Linked DNA regions of Homo sapiens. The protein of the gene in region 4 purifies or fractionates together with the protein of the main gene of each other region. This does not show direct contact. Each region holds a gene or a part of one and is shown on either strand. Other genes may lie near its edges. The genes, in order: NUDCD1, PATL2, LSM1 and XRN1.

The links.
Region 1: the proteins of XRN1 (region 4) and NUDCD1 purify together in Homo sapiens (co-immunoprecipitation; one large-scale study listed by IntAct). This does not show direct contact.
Region 2: the proteins of XRN1 (region 4) and PATL2 purify together in Homo sapiens (co-immunoprecipitation; one large-scale study listed by IntAct). This does not show direct contact.
Region 3: the proteins of XRN1 (region 4) and LSM1 purify together in Homo sapiens (co-immunoprecipitation; one large-scale study listed by IntAct). This does not show direct contact.

Annotation. Positions count from the first base shown.
Region 1 is NC_000008.11:109,243,186-109,247,701, forward strand, and holds part of NUDCD1 (nudC domain-containing protein 1), read right to left. Parts: intron 2,297-4,516; coding exon 2,137-2,296; intron 117-2,136; coding exon 1-116.
Region 2 is NC_000015.10:44,704,091-44,708,772, forward strand, and holds part of PATL2 (protein PAT1 homolog 2), read right to left. Parts: intron 1-4,682.
Region 3 is NC_000008.11:38,162,519-38,167,355, reverse strand, and holds the end of LSM1 (U6 snRNA-associated Sm-like protein LSm1), read left to right. Parts: intron 1-3,515; coding exon 3,516-3,686; 3' UTR 3,687-4,017; downstream 4,018-4,837. UniProt on the Homo sapiens protein: Plays a role in the degradation of histone mRNAs, the only eukaryotic mRNAs that are not polyadenylated. Probably also part of an LSm subunits-containing complex involved in the general process of mRNA degradation.
Region 4 is NC_000003.12:142,416,674-142,421,355, forward strand, and holds part of XRN1 (5'-3' exoribonuclease 1), read right to left. Parts: intron 4,481-4,682; coding exon 4,343-4,480; intron 2,209-4,342; coding exon 2,142-2,208; intron 1,937-2,141; coding exon 1,831-1,936; coding exon of another isoform or gene 1,797-1,830; exon of another isoform or gene 1,168-1,796; intron 557-1,167; coding exon 467-556; intron 1-466. UniProt on the Homo sapiens protein: Major 5'-3' exoribonuclease involved in mRNA decay. Required for the 5'-3'-processing of the G4 tetraplex-containing DNA and RNA substrates. The kinetic of hydrolysis is faster for G4 RNA tetraplex than for G4 DNA tetraplex and monomeric RNA tetraplex.

The DNA.
Region 1 (4,516 bases), on a different chromosome or scaffold from region 4:
GGGAGCAGGCTGACGATAGATGAATACTCGACGAAGGCACTCACAAAGGGCTGCATACGAGTAATTTGGAGCACAGGCAAAAAATTTTTTGTCTCTCTTTGATGCTTGGACATAGCCTGCCAAGAATATGAGACAAACAAAAGAAAAACTATATATTAAACAGAAGGGGAAAAATGATGATTTAACATTTAATATTTTGCAATGTTTATTACAAATTAAAATGCCCAAGTAAAATATATACCATAAGGTATATAATTCTGAATCATTAACGATTAGCCACAATCAGTCTCTCCCATCTGGTACAAAAATACGACTTTAATTCCTAAGGAACAAAACAGATATGGCTTTCTCGCTTCAAAAAAAGCGTAATATAGCTTCATTTAATTTCCACGAATAATTCGAACACTAAAATTCTAAAATCTAAAACACTCAATACATGACAAAATATCTTTAAGTGCCAATTTAATATTTAGCTTCGTGAGTTACGGATAGGGCATCACAGAACCATTTTTTTCCTCTTAAATAAATTGGAAAATGTGTATAGGATACCATCATAAAGTTATTTTAGTTTTCTGTTCATAATGTATCCCTGAATGTACTAGTATTCGTGATGCATTCTCTTATTATCCCTAAAATGTTAGTGATATTTTTATACATCAATACCAACACTGTAACTGGATTTTTTTGTACTTTTAGCCCCCACAAGTAGAATGTTGATCACTATAACTTCAAAAATAATTTCAAGTCTCTAAACTGAAAAAAATCCTTATCTTAATTCATGTACATGTTTAAAAAGTATCTTTTTGGATTAAAACAACATTTATATTCCAAAATATAAATTATGATTTTTAGATAGTGACATGGTTAGCAAATGTTAGGTATTTATGATCATGTAAAATAAGAATATAACATTAATTAAAATTGAGATCTCATCAAACAATGAATAAGCAAAGGAACTACTGAGCACATGCAGATCAATACTGTTTTTAAAAATATTAAGCAGGTTTGAAGCAGGAAAAGTGAAGATTTAGATACCTATTTAAATAGTTTAAAGTAGCTATCCAGGCTAACCTTGACAGAATAATGTATATAATATTTCAAGAGTACATATCTAATATATGTTGATTTAACTTAGAATTAAGCATAGAATTCCCCTATAATAGGGGATTTGGGGATACAAATAGAACATCTGAGCATCTAAAGATGATATGATAGAGCTTTCTTCTGACCAAAGTATAGATAATTAAAAAATAGCATTATAGTAGGGAGGCTAAAAATTATATGGTTAAATTAGTTAACCAAACTTTGTACTTCAGGTCATAAAAATCCATTTGGAGTCTGAACCAGTTTAGCAGCCTACATTATTAACTATAAGGGATAATTAATAAATTTCTTCTACAATTAGGGTTGTGCACATATAGCCATCAAAATACGTAACTTCACTTCTTGCTGCCTGTTTAAAATAACCTTTCAATAAAGCAACAACTGTGGCTAATTCACATAAAAAATTTCTGTCACACAATACTAATGCATTTTGACAGAAAATCAATGATTGCATACGTCTATAATTAAGTAGTTTAAACATTGTCAAGCCCTAATTTTAAAACTGATTTTTTTCCTTTTATCCTACCAAATAAATTTAATTTCTGCTTATCACCGCTTTCCATAAGTATTTTCATTATAATGGCTCTCTTTTGTACTTAATTTTGACAAAAGATGTCTCCTAATGTGCATTACACCTTAGGGGAATTCTATGATGTTTCTGAAGATTACTCTGAAGAAACTTGAACACCAGTTCCATGTAGGGTATTATCAAGCTCCTTGCTCAGACTCCAGTATTATATGGCTTACAGAATTAGAAAAAGCAAATGACTTATTAGAATAATTCAAGTGGTTAGATAACCACTTTCATTTCTATTCTGTGTTGATCTTCTGTACAAGCATAAAAACAGATTAGTCTAAATGTTCCAACAGTGCTAACACTCACAACTAGTACAAGCAAACAAATCATAGCGCAAATCAATCTAAATGTAATCAGGACAGCTCAAATTAAAAAGAAAAAAAAGAAATGAACTTTAAATGAATGATGACTGTATTTCTGATTTCATGGAAAATGTCAAAGAGTTTGCTTTATACCTAAAGCATTGAAAGTTGCGATGTGCTCCCACATATCATCTTGTTTGCTGGAGTGTGGTTGCCAGAGTAGGGCATCAACATCATGGCGCAAACAGAAGCAGGGCATTTCTTTAGGATCCACTATGACAGAGAAAAGGTACTGGTTGCTTCCAAGATTCACCTAAAAAGTGATTTAAAAAAAAATTTACTCAACAACAAATTAATAATAGCAACAATAACAATGGCAGAAGCTGACAGCCAGCATTAAGTGTCAGCAACTGTTTTATACTTTTTATATACTTAATCTGATTGACTCCTCATAATATCCCTGAGATAAATGTGCTACTGTTATGTTCATTTCAAAGCTGAGGAAAGTGATGCACAAGGCATTTAGGTAACTTGTCGATGGTCAGCCTGGCCATAAGTCATGGAGCTGAAATTTGGACCCAGAGTCTATGTTCTTAATCACCACGTGATATACCACCTCTTAATTGTTAGTAAATAGTTTAAAACACGATATAAAGCAGGGGTCCCCAGTCACTGAGCCGCAGACTGGTACCAGTCAGTGGCCTTTTAGGAACTGGGCCGCACAGCAAGAGATGAGCAGCAGGCAAGGGAGCATTACTGCCTGAGCTCCACCTCCTGTCAGATCAGCAGTGGAATTAGATTCTCACAGGAGGGTGAACACTATTGTGAAATGCACATGCAAGGGATCTAGGCTGTCTGCCTTATGAGAATCTAACTAATACCTGATGATCTGAGGTGGAACAGTTTCATCCTGAAACCATCCACCAAGCCCCCACAGGCCCATGGAAAAACTGTCTTCCACAAAACTGGTCCCTGGTGCCAAAAAGGTTGGGGACTGCTGATATAAAGCACCAATTTTATAAGCAGACTATTTTTAGGCCATAGAATACACACATGAAGTTTACTAATGCTAACTTGTAATAATTACCAAGAACAATGACACTACCAGAATTTATGAGCACACTCTCATAACATTTATAACCAGGCATGTTATAAATACTAATCTTAACAACTCGCAAGGCTATTATTATCTTCATTTAAGGGATGAAAGAACAGGCTTGGAGAGTTTGAGTAACTTGTTCTAGGCTAAAGAGAAATATCACAATGCTGGAATTCACACTCAGATGTTTAAAACTATTTACTTAAACGTACTGCTTAATTAAAGTATCAATGTCAATATGTCAATAATGTCAACATTTGTTATTGTAACACATCAATAATTGTTACTGCAATATTGATGCCTAAAGAAATGCATTTTAATACAAAATCATCAAATTGAAACTCACTGAATTTCATCTACAGCAATACTTTTTCTAAATGAAGACATGTTGTAAGGATAGTCTTCTTTATGAGAAATGTTATTATCAGAGTTGAAAATACGAAACAGAATACCAACAAAAATCACATCAAATGTAGAAAATATAAAATATGCACAGTACTTATAAATATGTAATTGATTCTAGGAGTTTGCAAGCAGACTGGAGAACCGTAAAAGATTGGGTTAAAGTAAGAAGTGGAGACCTGACCTGAATTCAACAGGGAAAGCTGTGAAGTGGCTCTCCAGCAAGGGGACCTATTATTGGTAAAGCTGTGACAACACAGGCTATTGGTCACAGGAGAATACAGTGTCAGAGCAACCCATCTTCTGCTCCCCAGCAATGCCAGGGAAATAGGGCTTTTTCGTAGAGCCAGTGCTTGCTCTCTACAAAATAAGGGGAGAAGGCCAGCACACAGAGACCACAGACTATTTCTTTTCTCTCCTTACTCCCGATGATCAGTGGCTAGATGAGGTTTATTTTCAAAGTCACCACTACCTAACTGGCCTTTTATTATTATGTTTGACAGACCTAACACTGCTTCAGCTCTCTTCCCTGTACTCCAACTCTGATACTCTATTTTTTTTAACCAAGGGCTTTCACAGAAGAAAAATAAACAACAGCTAAAATAAAATACAAGTTGAAACAATATTTTCACAACAATACATCTACTTTCATGAGCCAAGTGCCTAAAGAATGTATTGAATATTATGAGGATTAATATAATTGAATGATCTCTGGTCCATCCATACTTGAAGAGACAGCAGTGAGAAAAGAATAGAGGACCTTGAACCACGAAGTGAAAGGTGACCACCAAGGGAGATCAATCATGAAAATAAGAGGATAAGAATGAAGGTAGGTGCCTTATTATGAGCCCCTCACTCTGACTTAGATGTTTCTTCACTTCAGCAGCCACTTACCTTACGCATATTTCCATTATGGCGACTGTGTCAAGTGTTGTTAATTGTGAAACTAGCAATTTCATACAGCTTGTCTTTGCCATACCTTTGACATAGCATTCTGTTTGGACTCCTTGTATTTTTTTTACCTGATAGATT
Region 2 (4,682 bases), on a different chromosome or scaffold from region 4:
TGATCTGCCCATCTCAGCCTCCCAAGTAGTTGGGACCACAGGTGAGTGCCACTATGTCTGGCTAATTTTTTTTTTTTTTTTTTGGTAGAGACAAGCACTTTTGTAGAGACAGCACTTTCACCACCGTGTTTTCCAGGCTGGTTTCAAACTCCTGAGCTCAAGCCAAAGGCCTGCTTTGGCCTCCCAAAGTGCTAGGATTACAAGTGGGAGCCACCACTCCTGGCCCCTGTTGTATGCTTTTTTATTTCAGGTTACCATAAGGCTTGTATTTAATATTTTATAACCCATTATTTATTTTATTATTTTTGGCATATTCACAACATAACCCATTATTTTAAACCAATGAAAACTTACCACTGATTACATAAATAAAGAAGCAAAGAAAAAATTAATAAAAACTCTACATTTTAACTTTGTCCTCCTGCTTTTTAATTCTTTGTTGTTTGTGTTTGTGTCATATTGTACTGTCTATGTCTTGAAAAGTTGTTATAGTTATTAGTTTTGACTGGTTCAGCTTTTGGTCTTTCCACTCAAGATATGAGTAGTTTACATACCATGATTACAGTGTTACAATATTCTGTTTTTTTTCTGTGTACTTCCAATTACCAGTGAGTTTTACACCTTCAAATTATTTTTCATTGCTCATTAATGTCCTTTTCTTTCTGATTAAAGAACTCCCTTCAGCATTTCTTGTAGGACAGGTCTGGTGTTGATGAAATCCCTCAACTTTTGTTTGTCTAGGAAAGTCTTTATTTCTCCTTCATATTTTCAAGGATATTTATTTCTCCTTCATATTTCAAGGATATTTCCACTGGAAAGTCTGCTGCCAGACATATCAGAGCTCCATGGTATGTTATTTGTTTATTTTCTGTTGCTGCTTTTAGGATCCTTTCTGTATTCTTGACCTTGGGAGTTTGTTTATTAAATGTTTTGAGGTCATCTTCTTTGGGTTGAATTTGTTTGGTGTTCTATAACCTTCATATACTTGAATATTGATATCTTTCCCTAGGTTTGGGAAGGTCTTTGTTACTATCACTTTGAATAAACTTTCTACCCCATCTCTCTCTCTACCTCCTCTTTAAGGCCAATAACTCTTTTTTTTTTCTTTTTGAGACAGAGTCTCACTTTGTTGTCCAGGCTGGAGTGCAGTGCTGTGATCTTGGTTCACTACAGCCTCCACTTCCCAGGTTCAAGCAATTCTCCTGCCTCAGCCTCCAGAGTAGCCGGGATTAAAGGCGCCTGCTGCCACGTCCAGCTAATTTTTGTATTTTAGTTGAGACGGGGTTTCACGATGTTGGCGAGGCTGCTCTCGAACTCCTGACCTCATGATCTGCCCACCTTGGCCTCCCAAAGTGCTGGGATTACAGGAGTGAGCCACTGCACCTGGCTGCAGCCAGTAACTCTTAAATTTGCCGTTTTGAGGCTATTTTCTAGATCTTGTAGGCATGCTTCATTCTTTTTTATTCTTTTTTCTTTTGTCTCTTCTGATTATATTTTCAAATTGCCTGTCTTCAAGCTCACTAATTCTTTCTTCCACTTGATCAGTTCTACTGATAAGAGAGTCTGATGCACCCTTATGTATGTCAGTATCATTTTTCAACTCCATAATTTTTGCTTGATTCTTTTTAGTTATTTTAATCTCTTTGTTAAAGTTATATGATAGGATTCTGAATTCCTTCTCTGTGTTAGCTTTAATTTCTTTGAGTTTCCTCAAAACATTGTTTTTTTTTAGACAGAGTCTTGCTCAGTTGCCCAGGCTGGAGTACAGTGGTATGATCTTGGCTCACTGAATCTCCGCCTCCCAAGTTTAAGCAATTCTCCTGCCTCAGCCTCCTGAGTAGCTGGGATTACAAGCATATGCCACCACGCCCAGCTATTTTTGTATTTTTAGTAGAGATAGGGTTTCACCATGTTGGCCAAGCTGGTCTTGAACTCCTGAGCTCAAGTGATCTACCCACCTTGGCCTCCCAGAATGTTGGGATTACAGGTGTGAGCCACCGTGCCTGACCAAAACAGCTATTTTGAATTCTGTTTCAAAGGTCACATATCTCTGTTTCTCTGGGATTGGCCTCTGGTGCCTTATTCATTTGATGAGGTCATGTTTTCCTGGCTGGTCCTGATGCTTGTGGATGTTCATCAGTGTCTGAGTTAAATATTTATTATAGTCTTTGCAGTCTGGGCTGTTTGTATCTGTCCTTCTTGGGAAGGCTTTCCAGGAATTCAAAGGAACTTGGGTGTTGTGATCTAAGTTTTTGGTCACTGCAGCTGTATCTGCATTAGAGGGCACACCAAGCACAGAAATGCTGTGGCTCTTTCACAGTCTGTTGTATCTTTTTTGATTTGAGGTTACCATGAGGTTTGCAGATAATATTTTATCACTCATTATTTTAAACTGCTGACAACTTAACACTGATTACTCATAGAGGCACTGCCATGGTGGTCTTGGATAAGATCTGGAAGAATTCTCTGGATTACCAGGCAGAGACTCTTATTGTCTTCCCTTATTTTCCCCCAGGCAAAGTCTGTCTTTCTGTGATCAGCTGCCTGGAGTTGGGGGAGAAGTGACACAAACACCCCTGTGACCACCACTGGGACTGTGCAGGGTCAGACGTGAAGCCAGCATAGTACTGGGTCTTGCCCAAGGCCTATGGTAACCACCGCCTGGCTACTACCTATGTTCACTCAAGGCCCTATGGCTCTAAAATCAGCAGGTGGCAAAGCCAGCCAAGCTTATGTCCCTCTCTTTAGGGTGGCAAGTTTCCCCCAGCCTGGGGTGAATCCAGAGATGCCTTCCAGGAACTGGGGCCTAGTCAGAAACCTTAGGAATCTACCTGGTACTCTATTGCACTGAGGCTGAACTGGCACCCAAGCCACAAGACAAAGTCCTTCCCACTTTTCCCTCCCCTTTCCACAAGCTGAGGAGTCTCTTGCCATGGCCACTTCCACCCCAGGCCTGTGGTGGGTACTGTCTGGCTACTGCTGATGTATACTCAAGGCCCAAGGGCTCTGCAGTAAGCTTGTGGTGAACGCTGCCCAGCCTGGGACTCACCCTTCAGGGAAGCAGGCTCCCCTCTGGCCCAGAGCAGGTCCAGGAATGCTATCTAAGAGCCAAAGCCTGGAATCAGGGACCTTAAGAGGCCACTTGGTATTCTAACCCCACAGTGGCCAAGTCCCCTTTACTCTTTCCACTTCTTTTCTCAAGCAGAAGGAATTTCTCCCCATAGCCACCACAGCTGTAATGTGCTGGGTCACACCTTAAGCCTGCACGTCTCTGAGTCTCACCCAAAGCCCATGATGAGTACTACCTGGCTACTTCTGATTATTCAGGGCCAAAGGGCTCTTTAGTCAGCTGGTGAGGAATCCTGCCAGGACTGGTCCTTCCCTTCAAGGCAGCAGGTTCCCTTCTGGCCCAGGGTGTGGCTAGAAATGTCAGCTTGGAGCTATGGCCTGGAATGTGGGCCTCAGGACTTTGCCTGGTGCCCTATCCTACTGCAGCTGAGCTGGTATCCAATGCAAGACAAACTCATCTTTGTTCTTCCCTCTCCTCTTCTCAAGCAGAGGAAAGAAGTCTCTCTCTGAGCTTTGAGCTGCCCTGCCTGGGGTTGGGAGAGGGGTGGTGCAAGCAATCCCTTGGCCATCCCAGCTAGTGTCTCACTAGGTTGTGTGCCCCCCACATTCACTGGCTCTGAGCCCAGCACAGCACCAGGACTTACCCAGGAATTGCCATCCTTGTGGCCTAGACTGCCTTTCAAGTTTATGTAGAACCTCAGAGCACTTCAGCCCATGGTGGGGAGGCTTACTGGAACTCAGGTTCCCACTGCTGGGATGGGTGATTTGCCTCTAGCTAGGGCTGGTCTAAATGATCCCTCCATGGGACCTGGGTGAGTTCTTCCCAGTGTTGCTTTGTGCTATGACTGGGCAGCACTGAGTTCCAATGCAAAGTCTGAAAATCACTGCACTCTTCCTCTCCCAGAAGCACACATTCTCTCTCCATGCCAGGTGGCCGCTGCCGGCGAATGGGGGAGAGATAGCATTTAGCAATTCAAGACTGTCTTACCCTCTTCAGTTACTCTTTCAGTGATACGAAGTTAAAACCAGGTACTGTGATCACTCACCTGATTTTTGGTTCTTATGAAGGTGCTTTTTTTTGTGTGGATCATTATTCAATTTGGTGTTCCTGCAGGGAGCAGGATTAGTGGAGGCGTCTATTCAGCCATCTTGCTCCACCTCCCCTAGCTATGTCCTTTTAAATATTTATAATCGACATACAATATATTACACTTAAAGTATACAATAAGTTCTAAAATATAACTGAAATCATCATCGAACTCTAGATAATTAACATATCCATCAACCCTAAAGTTTCCTCATGTTTAGATGATCTCCTTTCCCTCTAGAAACCACTCATCTACTTTCTGTCATATAGATTATAGTTTGCCTTTTCTGGAGTTTTATATAAACAGAATCATATAGTATATGTTCTTTTCTGTCTGACTTCTTTTATTTACCATGATTATTTCATCCATGTTACATGTATCAACAGTTTATTCCTTGTTTGTTGATGATAGTATTTCATTGTATGGATATATACTCCAATGGGTTTATTCATTTACCTGTTGATGTATGTTGGATCGTTTCTAGTTTTCAGCTATCACAAATAAAACTGCTATAAACATTAAACA
Region 3 (4,837 bases), on a different chromosome or scaffold from region 4:
AAATATTCACAGATATGCTTCTGTTTTATAGTAGTAAACATAGCAGACATGCTTTTTATACTGGTTACATTGGCACAAAGTTACATCTAAGTAGATGTGTGTGTTTGTGCAGAGAAAGAGGTGAACGTGTTTGTTCTTGAAGTTTAATTGTTTCCTTGGATCCCTTTTGTGAGGAAAAGTTCCCTTTTTTAAAAAAATATGTTATGGTTTGGATGCTGCAGAAGTTTTACAGGGGTACCACTACAGAAACTTGGTTCCAGGAATGCCTGCATTGTTATGTGAATCAGCAATCAGGAGAAATTATGTACCAACCCCAGAGGAATTCATACATAGAAATCAGTTTCTGTAAACACTATATTGGTTAAGAAATCCCTGAATTCTGCCTCAAGGACGATGATGATGACACAGCATTAAGTAATAAGACTGTTGGGAAGAAGCAGCAACAGCAGCATGAATTGCTTAGCAAGTCACATACTGAAAAGCCCAAGAGGCAGTGCATTAGGCCGAGAACACTGTGCTCTCTTTAGCTGCTACTCATGGGTTGGGAGGGCAGGTGGTAATATATACTTTGCTGGGTGCTGTTAACTTTGGACCTAGAGCAGGGCTTGCTTATGTAATTTGTGTGGCTTTCATTGTAACTTCTGTGGTGAGAGTCCTCTCTGACTGATAATGCCACTGCCTGTGAGTTCTGAGACCTTGGCAGCATGTGGTAATAGTATGCAGGGCAGAGCATCTGGAGAAGTGTGTCAGTACCGTCCCAAACTTTTATCATTGAAAGTCATAGAGGAGGGTAAGAAACAGGAATACTTTGTATAGGCTTTCCATCTTACAAAAACACCAAATAATACCTGTACATTCATTTTAAGGACAATAAACTGAATCTATGGACAGTGAGATACTTTTTTAGCAAGGTTCTTCTGCATTATGACATTGGTTAGCAAATGTTTATAAGGGCCAGGCACAGTGGCTCACACTTTGGGAGGCCAAGGCAAGAGGATGCTTGAGGCCAGAAGTTTGAGACCAGCCTGGGCAACATAGCAAGACCCCATCTCTACAAAAAGAAAAAAGATTTAATGCCAGATGTGGTGGCACATGCCTGTAGTTCCAGCTACTTAGGAGGCTGAGGCAGGAGGATCACTTCAGCCCAAGAGTTTCAGATCATGGTGAGCTGTGATTGTGCCACTGCACTCCACCCTGGGCAACAGAGCAAGATCCTGTCTCTAAAAAAATGAAAAATGTGCTCACATTGGCAGCACATCTACTAAAATTGGAACAACACAGAGAAGATTAGCACGGCCCCTGCTTAAGGATGACACGCAAATTCATGAAGTCTTCTATATCTTTAAAAATAATTAATGAAAAATGTTTATAAAACATTCAAAAATAAAAATATTAAGCATACTATGCCACATTTAAGTGAAAAAACGAATTAAAGTCAGTATTTGCATTGTGGGTTTTTGGGAGGGGTTTGTTTTTGAGGCAGCGTCTCACTTTGTTATCTAGGCTGACTGCAGTGGTGTGATCACAGCTCACTGCAGCCTCAAACTCCTGGGCTCAAGTGATCCTCCCCCCTCAGCCTCATGAGTAGCTGGGACTATAGGTACACGTTACCACGCCCAGCTAATTTTTTATTTTTTACTTTTTTTTTTTTTTCCTTTTGAGACAGAGTCTTACTCTGTCGCCCAGGCTAGAGTGCAGTGGTGTGATCTTGGCTCACTGCAACCTCTGCCTCCTGGATTCAAGTGATTCTCGTGCCTCAGCTTCCCGAGTAGCTGGGATTACAAGTGTGAGCCACCACACCTGGCTGGGTTGTTTATTTTTTTTAAGTCAGTATATATGTAGAAAAATTGTAGGGATATTATCAAAATGTTAATCCTCCATACTGGAATTATGGATAATTTTTAAATTTTCCTTGTTTGTCTATTTTCCATATTATCTACGATGAGTGTGTATTTTTTAAATAAGGAATTTTTTATTAGGCAACAATTTTTTGTTTTTTTTTGAGATGGAGTTTTACTCTTGTCACCCAGGCTAGAGTGCAATGGCGTGATCTCCGCTCACTGCAACCTCCGCCTCCCAGGTTCAAGTGCTTCTCCTGCCTCAGCCTCCCAAGTAGCTGGGATTACAGGCACCTGCCACCACGCCCAGCTAATTTTTTTTGTATTTTTAGTAGAGACGGGGGTTTTGCCATGTTGGCCAGGCTGGTCTCGAACTCCTGGCCTCAAGTGATCTGCCCGCCTCGGCTTCCCAGTGTGCTGGGATTACAAGCGTGAGCCACCATGCCCAACCTAAGCAGCAATTTTTTAAATAGTGGAGAAAAATATTGGGACCAAATTGGTTTAGTAACCTAAATGGTCTGCCGAGGTTCTCCCTAGAAGACTTGTTGCCGTAAAGGGAAAAAGAGTCTTGTTACAGTTTAGATCTAGACTACAGAGCTGGTACGGTGGCGCACACCTGTAGCCCCAGCTACGTAGGAGGTAAAGGCAAGAGGATCCCTTTTTATTTTTGTCTTTTTACTTTTTTTGAGACGGTCTTGCTGTTGCAGAGGCTGGAGTGCAGTGACACATTCATGGCTCACTGCAGCCTTGAACTTCAACCTCCCAGGCTCAAGCAGTCCTTCCACCTCAGCCTCCTGAGTAGCTGGAACTGTAGGTGAACACCACCACACCAGCTTTTTTTTGTTTTGTTTTTTGGTGGAGTTAGTTAGGGTCTCACTGTGTTGCCCAGGCTGGTCTCGAACTCCTAGGCCCAAGTGATCCTCCCACCTCAGCCTCCCAAAGTGCTGGGATTACGACTGTGAGCCACTCCACCCGTCCTTAAAATAATTAAAAAAAAAAAAAAGTCTAAGGCCACATTGCCTCAATAACCTCCCTCTTGGATTCTCTGCAGTGGGGGAGATAGCTGTCTATAAGCAGCCCTAATTTTTTTTTTTAAGGAAATTAATCGTGGACTAATAGAAAATTAATCCTGACTAATATGGGATTTTGGATCACATAAAGCTCTGTTATACAAATACTTATTACTGCCTATAATCCCAGCACTTTGAGAGGCCAAGGCAGGCAGATCATGAGGTCAGGTTTCGAGACCAGCCTGACCAACGTGGTGAAACCCTGTCTCTACTTAAAATACAAAAATTAGCCAGGCGTGGTGGCACGTGCCTGTAATCACAGCTACTCAGGAGGCTGAGGCAGGATAATCGCTTGAACCCAGGAGGTAGAGGTTGCAGTGAGCTCAGATTGCGCCACTGCACTTCAGCCTGGGTGACAGAGAGACTCCATCTTGAAAAATATATACATATACTGATCACTATTAACCTCATTGTAAGTATGTATCCTATAGTAGTGTTGTCAGGCATTTCTTTGAAAAACTTACCGGTCCCTAGGAGAAGGATATTTCAGTTCCTGTCACAGTTATGAAAAATAATCTGAGCCTGATAGAGGAATCCATTTGCCTTGAGATCTGTGCTTTCTATTCTTGGTCTTCAGGTGAAGTTTTCAAACCTGTCTCTTTTGTAGGACTTGGAAAAGGAGAGTGACACACCCCTCCAGCAAGTATCCATTGAAGAAATTCTAGAAGAACAAAGGGTGGAACAGCAGACCAAGCTGGAAGCAGAGAAGTTGAAAGTGCAGGCCCTGAAGGACCGAGGTCTTTCCATTCCTCGAGCAGATACTCTTGATGAGTACTAATCTTTTGCCCAGAGGCTGTTGGCTCTTGAAGAGTAGGGGCTGTCACTGAGTGAAAGTGACATCCTGGCCACCTCACGCATTTGATCACAGACTGTAGAGTTTTGAAAAGTCACTTTTATTTTTAATTATTTTACATATGCAACATGAAGAAATCGTGTAGGTGGGTTTTTTTTTTAATAACAAAATCACTGTTTAAAGAAACAGTGGCATAGACTCCTTCACACATCACTGTGGCACCAGCAACTACTTCTTTATATTGTTCTTCATATCCCAAATTAGAGTTTACAGGGACAGTCTTCATTTACTTGTAAATAAAATATGAATCTCAAAAGTGTCATGTTATTTCCAAGTTTGAGTTACCTGTAATGAATAGATTAATAGATTAATTAAGTTTCTGCTCTCAAAGGTATAAGCAGTCCACATACTGGGATTTCCCCCTTCAGTCACAGTTTCAAGTAGCTGGCTACTTAGGAAGGAATATTTTTATTCCAGTCATCTCAGGGGTCCTCTCCTGTTTCCATGTTTGTATCTGTTAAGAAATACAAATGTTCGGCAGGGGCGGTGGCTCATGCCTGTAATCCCAGCACTTTGGGATGCCGAGGCGGGTAGATCACCTGAGGTCGGGAGTTGAAGACCATCCTGACCAACATGGAGAAACCCTGTCTCTACTAAAAATACAAAATTACCAGGGCGTGGTGGCGCATGCTGTAATCCCAGCTACTTGAGAGGCTGAGGCAGGAGAATCACTTGAACCTGGAAGGCAGAGGTTGCGGAGAGCCAAGATTGCACCATTGCACTCCAGCCTGGGCAATGAGCGAAACTCCGTCTCAAAAAAAAAAAAAAAAAAATATAAACGCTCAGGCGTGAGGAGGGAGCTTTCAGCTGTTTCCCAGTTACTGGTTACTGCAGAAGACTCATGTTTGAGAAACGACATCATGGTTGCTCTTGCTCCTGCTTCGCCCATGGCTATTCCAAACTAAGTCCCCACGAGACCCAACATGTTCTTACAGTGGCTTGTTCTCCAGGTTTTCTGCTAATTTAATTAGGTGTTCTAGTCCTTTGTATTGAGTCTTGAGTATCTTAACGTTCTCATCAAAAAGGAACATAAATGGTATTGTAGTGACTGAAAGCCCATAGTGATGGCACTTTGT
Region 4 (4,682 bases):
AGGGCTGGAGAAAATATTACCTATGTTTCATTTAAACCTGGTTGTATGGAACTTTTAAAAAATTACCATAAGTAGAGGCCGGGTGCAGTGACTCATGCCTGTAATCCTAGCACTTTGGGAGGTCAAGGTGGGCGGATCACCTGAGGTCAGGAGTTCGAGACTAGCCTGGCCAACATGGCGAAACACCATCTCTACTAAAAATATAAAAATTAGCTGGCCGTGGTGGCGCATGCCTGTAATCCCAGCTACTCAGGGGGTTGAGGCAGAATTGCTTGAACCCAGGAGGCGGAGATTGCAATGAGCCGAGATCATGCCACTGCACTCCAGCCTGGGCAACAGAGTGAAAAAAAAAAAAAAAAAAAAATTACCATAAGTAGAAATAAAAGGAAGTGCTTCCTAAATAAGACTCTAGTAGAATGAATCATTATAAAAAGACAAAACTTTATTTTTGTTTTTATTCTCTCACCAGCTCCAGGACTGAACTCCATGATAGTAATAGTGCAAAATCCACTGTATTGCCTGAACATAACATGCAGCTTGATCAGCCAGAAAGTCACTGAAAATAGAATATTTTCATTATAACATATTTTCTGAAGACAGGCCCGTGTCTTTAGAGCACGGTATCTGCTGATACAACATTTTACCTCAGATGATTTATTTAATCAATGAATTAGCTATTTATGGCTAAAAATTATAATCCTAAAAACTCCAAAATATTTTTAAAAATTACATCCTGTCACATGACAGTTTTCCTAAACCAACTATCAAAATAGATAAGTCTGTTATTCATATTTACTCAGTTAATGTACCACTCCCTTGGTCCAAAGGTTGAAGATTTACCCAATGAAGCTTTCCATAGTGACACTACCACTCTCTTAAATAGTGGGGGTGAGACGGGAGAAAGGGATGGGAATCTTCTTTACATGGGATGATATCTGAGAGAAGCAAAGCAGCAAATCAGGAAGATCTTAAAATTTGGTCACAGAAGCTAGAATGCTTTCAGAAGTGCTGTATGTGAACAATATTCCTTCTAATCCTTTCTTTGTCAAAAACCAAATGCCATCTTCTAAGTTTGGGTAAAATAAGTCTTCAAATCATCAAAACAAAACAAAACAGAGCCCTGGGCTAAAGGCAAAAATATTCACTTAGAAATTACATAACTACATATTTCTGGGAGGTAGTTTTTTAATATGAAAAATATTGCTTTTTTATTATAAAAGAACTATTTCCTCAGGAGTGAAAATCTGGACAATGAAGAACAGCATTTTTATCATCTTATAGCCATCACTTTTACATTTTTAGTGTTTCAGTCTTTTATCTATATCTAGGTTTTTTTAAGGTTAATGAGAGCATACTGTATGTATGATTTCATGTCTTGCCTTTACAATTTGTACTTAATAATGTACTATAAGCATCCTTCCAAATTGTTATGAACTTTCTGCAAGTACCAGTTTAGCAGTTCTGCAGATTCCGGAGATGGAAGAGGTGACAGAGATGGTGACTGTAATGAAGAAGCAGTGGCCAATTATGATGAACCTTCTTATTGGACATTTAGATTATTTCTAATTTTTTTACTATTATAAACAACTTTGTAACAAAAATCCTTATACATAAGGATCATTTTCTCTTCAGCAATTTTTATCACAGGAATATAATACAAGTCAGAATTAATACCATCTTCTCCAAAACCAGACTAGTTGAAACATACACAATAATTCATGAAACCAAAAAATCCTTTTTCTCCCACTACTTCATCAAAATCATATTTTCTGAATAACTGCAAAATCTAATTTTTTCTATTTTAAAATAAAAGCATTGGCAAAAACGTACTCAGATACTACGTCAACCCCCATCTTCGTCATGTAATATGTTCTTTTATATTGTCTAAACTCAGTTTCAAATAGGTCATCATCTTCAGTCTCATCTTCTAAATTATCTGGGGAAAAAAGTCAGAAAGATAGTGACTGACAATTATGAATAGCCTGTTTTTCCACCTAATGATTTGATAAATGCATATCCAAGTTGATGCTTATATGCTATCACAGAAATCTGTTCCACCCAAAATTAGTAATAATAAATAAAAGGTATAACAATTATCCTGTCAAAGTAGTAACATATCAAAACACATACTTCATACTTACCCTTAGAAGTTATCATTTCGCCTTCATTTTTGTCTAAAGCAGTCCAACACAGAGAATTTTCCTGGCCCTGTAAATTGTAAATCAACATAAAATGAATGGCAAGATACATTTCAAAATGAGATGTCATTTCTCTTCCATGCACCCATTTGCTTTTCTATAGTTCTTCCATGTTATAACATCCTTCATATCCTGCCCATCTGTTTTTCCTCCCTTGTGATCTCAATCCTTTCTCTCCTCTATTCTCTGATTTCCTGTCTACTGCCAATGACTCTCTTTAGTTCTTCCTACTCCCTTATCCCCATTTCCTTTCTTTCATCCAACTTATGGCCTCTACCAACTTCCTGTGTCTGGGCTATTCCTGCACAGTGTCTCTAAAGTTAGCTGCATATGGCTGGAAGACTGGTGAAGTTTAAGTACTGAATTGTGGTGGGGGAGCCAGGGATTACTGACAGGTAAGTTTTGTGTGTACAGGTTCCCAAAAAGTTGCAGAGCCCGTTTTCTTAGGGGGGGAAAAAAAAAGACACACACACACACACAAAAACCAGTGGAATGCAGACTGACTGCTGCCAAGTTCCAGTGAGGAAGAGCTAAGCAGCGAGAAGGACTACACTAGAGAAAACAAGGACAGTTGCCCCTCCTGGAGCAAGAGTCATTAAGTTTGAACCTAAATAGAACCAGTACAGCAAGGAGAGTAAGAAGCTCAACAGAATCTTGGCCGGGCACGGTGGCTCACGCCTGTAATCCCAGGACTTAAGGGAGGCCAAGGTGGGCAGATCACGAGGTCAGGAGTTCGAGACCAGCATTACCAACATAGTGAAACCCCGTCTCTACTAAAAATACAAAAATTAGCTGGGTGGTGGCGCGCACCTCTAATCCCAGGTACTCAGGAGGCTGAGGCAGGGGAATTCAAGCGAACCCAGGAGGTAGAGGTTGCAGTGAGCCAAGATCGCGCCACTGCACTCCAGCCTGAGTGACAGAGTGACATGCTGTCTCCAAAAAAAAAAAAAAGAAACTCAGCAGAATCCAATAATTACAGAGAGGCTGAAGAATTTTTCACAAGAGGTTTACTTTTCAAGTTAACACAAGACATTCTTTGGAGATTATCAGAGATGCTCTGCAGGGTACTATCATATTCTAATTGATTCTATTATTCATTTATTAAGCACATAACATTTACTAGATATTGTGCTATTAGGCTGGCACAAAAGTAATTGTGGTTTTTGCCATTACTATTAACTTAGACTATTGTATTTTATATGTAAATCATTTCTAGAGAAAAATCACTGATCTAGTTAATGTCTCATATCATTAAACACTATAAATATCCACATTTTAAAAACTAGTCCATTGTTTTAAAATAACAATTTTTTTTTAATTAAAAAAAAATTGCCAGGGGAAAGTGTGAATGCAGTCCTCCACTACCATAAGTCACGCAGTTCAGTTTCCCACATTTGGCGAAATCGCAGGGCATCAGCACATCCAGAGTGCAATGGATAAACCTCGCCCTGGGAAAACTACCTTCATGATCATGGTATCCTCCCTGTCAGGTTTTAAATAATTGTTTTTCTTTTTTATGAGACAGAGTCTCACTCTATCAGCCAGGCTGGAGTGCAGTGGCTCAGTCTTGGCTCACTGCAACCTCTGTCTCCCAGGTTCAAGTGATTCTCGTGCCTCAGCCTCCCAAGTAGCTGGGATTACAGGTGTGTGCCACCACATCCAACTAATTTCTGTTTTTTTAGTAGAGATGGGGTTTCGCCACGTTGGCCAGGCTGGTCTCAAACTCCTGACCTCAGGTAATCCACCCATTTTGCCTCCCAAAGTGCTGGGATTACAGGTGTGAGCCACTGCACCTGGCCTTAAATAATTGTTTTTAATAACATGTTTTAAGTAATTTTTTTAAAAAGCCCAGAAAATAATTCATTTTCTGGGCTTTTATGTTTAGAAATGTTTTCCACATTTATTAACATAAAACACAATGTACCTCTTCAACAGTAAAAATAAGGAACTGATTATTGAAGATCTCATTAAATGACAGAAGCTAATAGAAAAAAAGAAACCAAATCAATTTCTGAAATGCCTATAGAGAGGAAGAGAAATAAAACGAGGCAATCCCAAATCATAAGAAGGAAAATGAGAAACAAAGAATATAATTTTTGCCTTTACAGTTAAAACAATGAAAGGACACCTAAAAAAATAGACACCTTTAACTTTTTCTTTTCCTTGTAGTTCCTGGCTTCTTCTGCTGCGACACCTGCTGCTTCATTGAGGTACTTGTTACCAACTTTGCTTTCAAACCATTTTAGGTCCACAAAAACTTCACTGAAGTGCTCCCGATCAAACTGTACAGAAATATTTAAATTTATTTTTAAATAATTTAAGTATATCTAGAAGAATACAAATCAAACTTAAAACAGTGACTACTACTGGGGTATAGGAAATTGGAGAATGTTACTCTTTTATATATATGGGAGACCTCATGTGTTACTCTAAAAATACAAATAGAAAGCAAATAAAAATAAAATTAATTTAGGTAAAAGTGTT